2 linked regions of the Homo sapiens genome follow. The gene in region 1 interacts genetically with each later gene. Each region holds a gene or a part of one and is shown in the gene's direction. Other genes may lie near its edges. The genes, in order: EZH1 and KEAP1.

Region 1 (3,815 bases):
TGTTTCTTATATATTTGCCTTTGGATGATACCTTCAAACAACCAATTTAAGTCTGGACACTGTGGCTCATGCCTGTAATCCCAGTATTTTGGGAGGCCGAGGTGGGCGAATCACTTGAGTTCAGAAGTGTGAGACCAGCCTGGGCAACATGGCAAAACTCTGTCTCTACAAAAACATTACAAAAATTAGCCAGGCCTGGTGGTGTGGGCCTGTAGTCCCAACTACTCAGGAGGCTGAGTAGGGAGGATTGCTTGAGCCCAGGAGGCAGAGGTTGCAGTGAGCCGAGATCAAGCCACTGCATTCCAGCCTGGGCAACAGAGCAAGACCCTGTCTCAAAACAAAATAAGAAACCGATTCAAAATATTAATTTTGTCTATTTTTAATTCCTAGGGTCTGAAACCTGGCTTCATTACTCTGTAGGCAACAGTTCCTTCCCTTTGATTTGCTGTTTATATGAAACATGTAACAATTCATGTCATTAAGTATATCTTTTTCTGGTCTTAGATTAAGTTTAAAAAGTTTCACTTTGGGCCCCCCACGTTGTGGCTCACAGCTGTAATCCCAGCACTTTGGGAGCAGGCCGAGGGATTGATCACTTGAAGCCAGGAGTTTGGGACCAGCCTGTCCAACACGGTGAAACCCCGTTTCTACAATTAGCTGGGCGTGGGCATCCCACACCTGTCATCCCAGCTACTTGGGAGGCTGAGGAACGAGAATCCCTTGAACCTGGAAGGCGGAGGTTGCAGTGAGCTGAGATGGCACCACTGTACTCTAGCCTGGGCGACAAAGGGAGACCCTGTCTCAAAAACAGTTTCCACTTTGTTCACTATTTCTATTTTGTTCACTAGTAGCGTCCCAGAAAAGATTTGAGGTAGCAACACTAAAAACACACTAATTCCATTTCTACATAGAATAAACTAAAGAGAAAAGAGAAAACAATTTGTGGAGAAAAGTGAAGATAATTAGATAGGTTGGGATTGAGGGGAAGGGTTAAAGGTTAAAAAAAGAAAAATTGTGCTTCTCCATTCTGGAAAGTCCCCAGCTTTTTCTTTGTTTTGTTTTATGTCCAAACTGTGTACATATTGGATTCTTTCCTACTCCTTAGTCTATCAGTCAATCATCAGTTGAGACTTGAGTACACTACACCCTAAAGTCATGAGTTACTTAATGGGTAGTTGGAATTCAGTACCTTTAGTGTGTTTTATTCTCTAACTCACCTACCCGAATAATTTGATTCAAAATAGACTAAAAAGTCTTATTTTTATTGGATGATATGAGCAGGCACTAAATACAGTACAGTATTAAACTTTGGGCTGACACAGTACAGAACCAGTCAAGATAGGGCTCTAGCCTGTTAGGAGATTGCTTTTACTCTTCCAAGTCAGCGTTCTCACTGGGCACGGTGGCTCATGTCTGTAATCTCAACCCTTTGGGAGGCTGAGGAAGGGGGATTACTTCAAGTCAGGAGTTCAAGGCCAGCCTGGGAAACATAGCAAGATCTTGTAGGCTGGGCGTAGTGGCTCACGCCTGTAATCCCAGCACTTTGGGAGGCCGAAGCGGGTGGATCACAAGGTCAAGAGATCGAGATCATCCTGGCCAACATGGTGAAACCTGTCTCTACTGAAATGCAAAAATTAGCTGGGCGTGGTGGCTTGCACCTGTAGTCCCAGCTACGCGGGAGGCTGAGGCAGGAGAATCGCTTGAACCCGGGAGGCGGAGGTTGCAGTGAGCTGAGATTGCACCACTGCACTCCAGCCTGGCAACAGAGCAAGACTCCGTTTCAAAAAAAAAAAAAAAGATCTTGTCTCCACTGAAAATATAAAAAATTAGCCAGGCATGGTGGCATGTGCCCGTAGTCCCAGCTACTAGGGAGGCTGGGGCCAAAGGATCCCTTGAGCCTGGGAGGTCGAAGTGCAGTGAGCTATGATCATGCCTGGTCGGCAGAGTGGGACCCTTTCTCAAAAAACAAAATAAAATGAAATAAAATTAAACCAGAGTTATAAATCCTGTGAGCCAGCATTTTCCTTTGGGTCTCATAAAAACTAATCCTGTTTATGGTGAAACCCTGTCTCTACTGAAAACACAAAAAATTAGCTGGGCATGGTGGTGGGCACCTGTGATCCCAGGTACTCGGGAGGCTGAGGCAGGAGAATGGCGTGAACCTGGGGGATGGAGCTTGCAGTGAGCCAAGATCGCGCCACTGCACTCCAGCCTGGGCGACAGCGCGAGACTCTGTCTCAAAAAAAAAAAAACTAATCCTGTTTAGATTTTTGTTACCATTACCTCCAGTGCATACGATCTAATTTTTTTTTTGAGACAGAATTTCACTCTTGTTGCTCAGACTGGAGTGCAATGGCACGATCTCAGCTCATTGCAACCTCTGCCTCCTGGGTTCAAGCGATTCTCCTGCTTCAGCCTCCCGAGTAGCTGGGATTACAGGCATCCACCACCATGCCCGGCTAATTTTGTATTTTTAGTAGAGACGGGGTTTCTGCATGTTAGGCTGGTCTCGAACCCCTGTCCTCAGGTGATCCACTCGCCTTGGCCTCCCAAAGTGCTGGGATTACAGGTGTGAGCTACTGCACCCAGCTGATCTGATTCTCTTAATTAAGCAACACTAGGAAATACTAATGTTATAATTTTATTTTAAATTAGAATTCAGAGTCACAGGTTCCTGTTAGGAAGGTTCTTTCTGTGTGTAGTGCCCAGAAGCTCAAACTAATGACAGATGAAAATACCTCAGAGAAGTTGGAGGGTATAAATTAGAGATGTGCTTTATAGATCCTAACTGAGAGATCAGGCTGTGTACCTAGTCACAGAATTGATTTTAATTGAAATGTTGATGAAATTGGTGATCACCAGAATGACCCAAAGGTGTGTTACTAGAGCTCTTTGCAGGGATAGGTTCACCCCTATCATTCAGGTTTCAATTACACTATGAATCAAAAAAGGAATAGGATGAAATATTTAAAAATATAGGCCAGGGGCCAGGCGTGGTAGCTCACGCCTGTAATCCCAGCACTTTGGGAGGCCGAGGCAGGTGGATCACGAGGTCAGGAGATGGAGACCATCCTGGCCAACATGGTGAAACCCCGCCTCTACTAAAAATACAGAAATTAACCCGGCTTGGTGGCGAGCATAGTCCCAGCTACTCAGGGGGGGTGGAGGCAAGAGAATCGCTTGAACCCAGGAGGTGGAGATTGCAGTGAGCTGAGATAGCACCACTGCACTCCAGCCTGGGTGACAGAGTGAGACTCCTTCTCAAAAAAAAAAAAAAAAAAAAAATCTAGGCCAGGCCCGGTGGCTTACGCCTGTAATCCCAGCACTTTGGGAGGCCAAGGTGGGTGAATTACCTGAGGTTAGGAGTTCCAGACCAGCCTGGCCAAGATGGTGAAACCCTGTCTCTACTAAAAATACAAAAATTAGCTGGGGCAGAGGTTGCAGTGAGCTGTTATTGCACCAACGCACTCCAGCCTGGCAACAGAGTGAGACTCCATCTCAAAAAAAAATAAAAAAAATAGACTGGGCACGGTGGCTCACGTCTGTAATCCCAGCAGAGCGAGATTCCGTCTCAAAAAATAATAATAAATACAAATAATAAATACAAATAAATAAAATTAAAAAATAAAAATCTGTAGTGCCATCTGCCTCCAAAGGCTTACTTAGCCTTGCTGGTTAATAAAATTATTATTCAAGAGAAACTATCAAAGACACTGAATTTGCCCCTAAGACAAAGAAGCTGTTTCTGCAAAGGGACACCTTATGTAGATGAAAAAATTTAATAGTTTGGAACTTTTGTATTCTGATCTCAGTCT
Region 2 (3,815 bases), on another chromosome or scaffold:
GCGTAGGGCTTTGCAGGCTGTTGAGGAGTTCAGTTTTACTAGGTACTGTGGGAGGCATTGGAGGATCCAGAGCAGGGGAGAGACATGACTTCATGTATGTTTTAAGATGGGCTCTTGGGCCAATCAGGTTGATCAGGTCGGGGAAGTTTGCAAGTTTGCAAATGGATTCTGCTTCACCTACTTTGCAGGAAAACTGACCTAGGAATTGCTTTATCTTGCAAAACGAGGCCCGGCAGGTGCTGGCCCAGTCCCAACCCCTGCCCTCTGCCCTGTGCTCTCTCCCCTCCAGGTCCCTGAGTGCCAGAGGTGGTGGTGTTGCTTATCTTCTGGAACCCCATGCAGCCAGATCCCAGGCCTAGCGGGGCTGGGGCCTGCTGCCGATTCCTGCCCCTGCAGTCACAGTGCCCTGAGGGGGCAGGGGACGCGGTGATGTACGCCTCCACTGAGTGCAAGGCGGAGGTGACGCCCTCCCAGCATGGCAACCGCACCTTCAGCTACACCCTGGAGGATCATACCAAGCAGGCCTTTGGCATCATGAACGAGCTGCGGCTCAGCCAGCAGCTGTGTGACGTCACACTGCAGGTCAAGTACCAGGATGCACCGGCCGCCCAGTTCATGGCCCACAAGGTGGTGCTGGCCTCATCCAGCCCTGTCTTCAAGGCCATGTTCACCAACGGGCTGCGGGAGCAGGGCATGGAGGTGGTGTCCATTGAGGGTATCCACCCCAAGGTCATGGAGCGCCTCATTGAATTCGCCTACACGGCCTCCATCTCCATGGGCGAGAAGTGTGTCCTCCACGTCATGAACGGTGCTGTCATGTACCAGATCGACAGCGTTGTCCGTGCCTGCAGTGACTTCCTGGTGCAGCAGCTGGACCCCAGCAATGCCATCGGCATCGCCAACTTCGCTGAGCAGATTGGCTGTGTGGAGTTGCACCAGCGTGCCCGGGAGTACATCTACATGCATTTTGGGGAGGTGAGCGGGGAAGTGGGGCTGGGGGCAGTGTCAGGAGAAGGACCAGGGATGGACGAGTGCTCATCACTGTCTCCCCTTGAGATGTCAAGGCAGGAAACTGGAGAAAAAGGAGGTTCTGGGCTGGGTATGGTGGTGTAGTCTCCACAGTTTGAGGGGCTGAGGCGGGGGGATTGCTTCAGGCCAAGAGTTCAAGACCAGCCCAGGCAACATAATGACACCCTGTCTCTAAACAAACAAACACACAAACAAAAAACAACTGGGGCCGGGCGTGGTGGCTCATGCCTGTAATCCCAACACTTTGGGAGGCCGAGGCAGGTGGATCACCTGAGGTAAGGAGTTCAAGACCAGCCTGGCCCACATAGCTAAAACCCATCTCTACTAAAAATATAAAAATTAGCCAGGCCTGGTGGCGGGCGCCTGTAGTCCCAGCTGCTCAGGAGGCTGAGGCAGGAGAATCGCTTGAACCAAGAGGTGGAGGTTGCAGTGAGTGGAGATCGAGCCACTGCACTCCAGCTTGCGCAACAGAGCAAGACTCAGTTTCAAAAAAAAAAAAAATTAAAAAACAACTGGGGTTCTGAGTTCCTTGTCTACACATGTGGGGAGACTGGTGAACAGCTGGGGAAGGTGAGGTCTTCATATGTCTCTGGGCTCCCTGGTTTCTCTGGGGTCAAAGTGGGGCAGAGTGCAGTGAACAGCAGCCAAATCCTAGGGTAGCCCAGCCTTTCGGGCAGTCAGCAAATGTTTATTGGACACCCGTGACAGGCTGCAAGCTGTAAGTCTGAACCTTAGTCATGTTTTCTTTGGTCCACACAATGTCCTTATACTGTTTTTGGTTTCGTTTTCACATTTCTCAGTGAAGGAAATTATCTATAGAAATTGACAAGAGAGGGCAGGGCCCAGTGGCTCACGCCTGTAATCCCAGCACTTTGGGAGGCTGAGGCGGGTGGCTCACCTGAGGTCAGGAGTTTGAGACCAGCCTGACCAATATGGTGAAACCCCATCTCTAATAAAAATACAAAAAAAGAAAACTAGCCGGGTGTAGTGGCATGTGACTATAGTCCCTGCTACTCGAGAGGCTGAGACAGGAGAATCGCTTGAACCGGGGAGGTGGAGGTTGCAGTGAGCCGAGATCGCACCATTGCACTCCAGCCTGGGCGACAGAGCAAGACTCTGTCTCAAAAAAAAAAAAAAAAAAGCCTGGGCGCGGTGGCTCATGCCTATAATCCCAGCACTTTGGAAGGCCAAGGTGGGCAGATCACCTGCGGTCGGGAGTTCAAGACCAGCCTGACCAACATGGAGAAACCACGTCTCTATTAAAAATGCAAAATTAGCCTGGCATGGTGGCTCATGCTTGTAATCCCAGCTACTCAGGAGGCTGAGGCAGGAGAATCGCTTGAACCCGGGAGGCGGAGGTTGCAGTGAGCTGAGATTGCGCCATTGCACTCCAGCCTGGGCAATAAGAGCGAAACTCTGTCTCAAAAAAAAAAGAAAAAGTTTTTGAAGAGATGAGGTCTTGCTCTGTCCCCAGGCTGGAATACAGTGGTGCCATCATAGCTCACTGTAGCCTCCAACTCTTGGGCTCAAGGAGGCCTCCTATCTCAGCCTCCTGAGTAGCTGGGACTATAGGTATGCAGCACCACGCATGGCTAATTTTTTAGTTTTTAAATTTTTTTGTAGAGACAGGGTCTTGCTATGTTGCTGAGACTGGTCTCGAACCTCCTGGCTTTGAACAATCCTCTGGCTTTGGCCTCCCGTAGTGTTGGGATTACAGGTATGAAGCACCATACCAACACCAGGCCAAGAAGTGTTTATTGAGCACTTGCTGTGGGCCAGCCCCTGTTCTAAGTGATTTATGTCCTTTGCATCATTGACTGTTCCCAACTGTCCTATGAGGCAGTACTACCCTTCAGCCTAGGCAAGCAGGGCAGTGCCCCAGGCCCTAAGCCTTCGGGAGTCCCATGTCTTGGTGTTCCTTCCTGGAAATTTTCTAAGTCCCCCACTGGCTGGTACCAGCTGGGATGGATGTTACACTGATCTCTATTTCTCTCCTTCAGGGATAGATTCTTTCCTACCCTCTATGTTACATGTGGGGTTGATCAGACGCCCCAGGGTTCTCTGGCGTTAGTCCTAGGGCCTGCAGCTTCTAGGAAAGTGGTCTATACAGTAGGAGAAACATATACAGTGTTTCTTTCTTGTGTTTGTATGAACATGGGGTACTAGATTAAAACTGATTACATAGACGAGTGCCTGACAACTTTTTTTTTTTTTTTTGAGACGGAGTCTCACTCTGTCACCCAGGCTGGCATGCAGTGGCACTGTATCGGCTCACTGCAACCTCCATCTCCTGGGTTCAAGCAATTCTCCTGCCTCAGCCTCCCAAGTAGCTGGGATTACAGGTGCCTACCACTATGCCCAGCTAATTTTTAAAAAATATTTTTAGTACAGATGGGGTTTCACCATGTTGGCCAGGCTGGTCTCGAACCCCTGAGCTCAGGTGATCTGCCTGCCTTGGCCTCCCTAACTGTGCTGGGATTACAGGCATGAGACACTGCGCCCACGCCCGCCCCCCACCGCCCAGTCCTTTTTTGTTTTTGAGACTGAGTCTGGCTCTATCGCCCAGGCTGAAGTGCAGTGGCAAGATTTCGGCTCACTGCAAGCCTCCATGTCCTGGGTTCAAGCGATTCTCATGCCTCAGCCTCCGAAGTAGCTGGGATTACAGGGGTGCACCACCACGCTGGCTAATTTTTGTATTTTTAGTAGAGACAGGGTTTCACCATGTTGGCCAGGCTGGTCTGGAACTCCTTACCTCACGTGATCCGCCCACCTCAGCCTCCCAAAGT

Evidence for each region.
Region 2: changes in EZH1 (region 1) and KEAP1 together harm fitness more than expected from each alone (negative genetic interaction), as found in Homo sapiens cells (one large-scale study listed by BioGRID).

The regions. Positions count from the first base shown.
Region 1 is NC_000017.11:42,738,226-42,742,040, reverse strand, and holds part of EZH1 (histone-lysine N-methyltransferase EZH1), read left to right. Parts: intron 1-3,815.
Region 2 is NC_000019.10:10,496,555-10,500,369, reverse strand, and holds part of KEAP1 (kelch-like ECH-associated protein 1), read left to right. Parts: intron 1-289; 5' UTR 290-336; coding exon 337-975; intron 976-3,815. UniProt on the Homo sapiens protein: Substrate-specific adapter of a BCR (BTB-CUL3-RBX1) E3 ubiquitin ligase complex that regulates the response to oxidative stress by targeting NFE2L2/NRF2 for ubiquitination.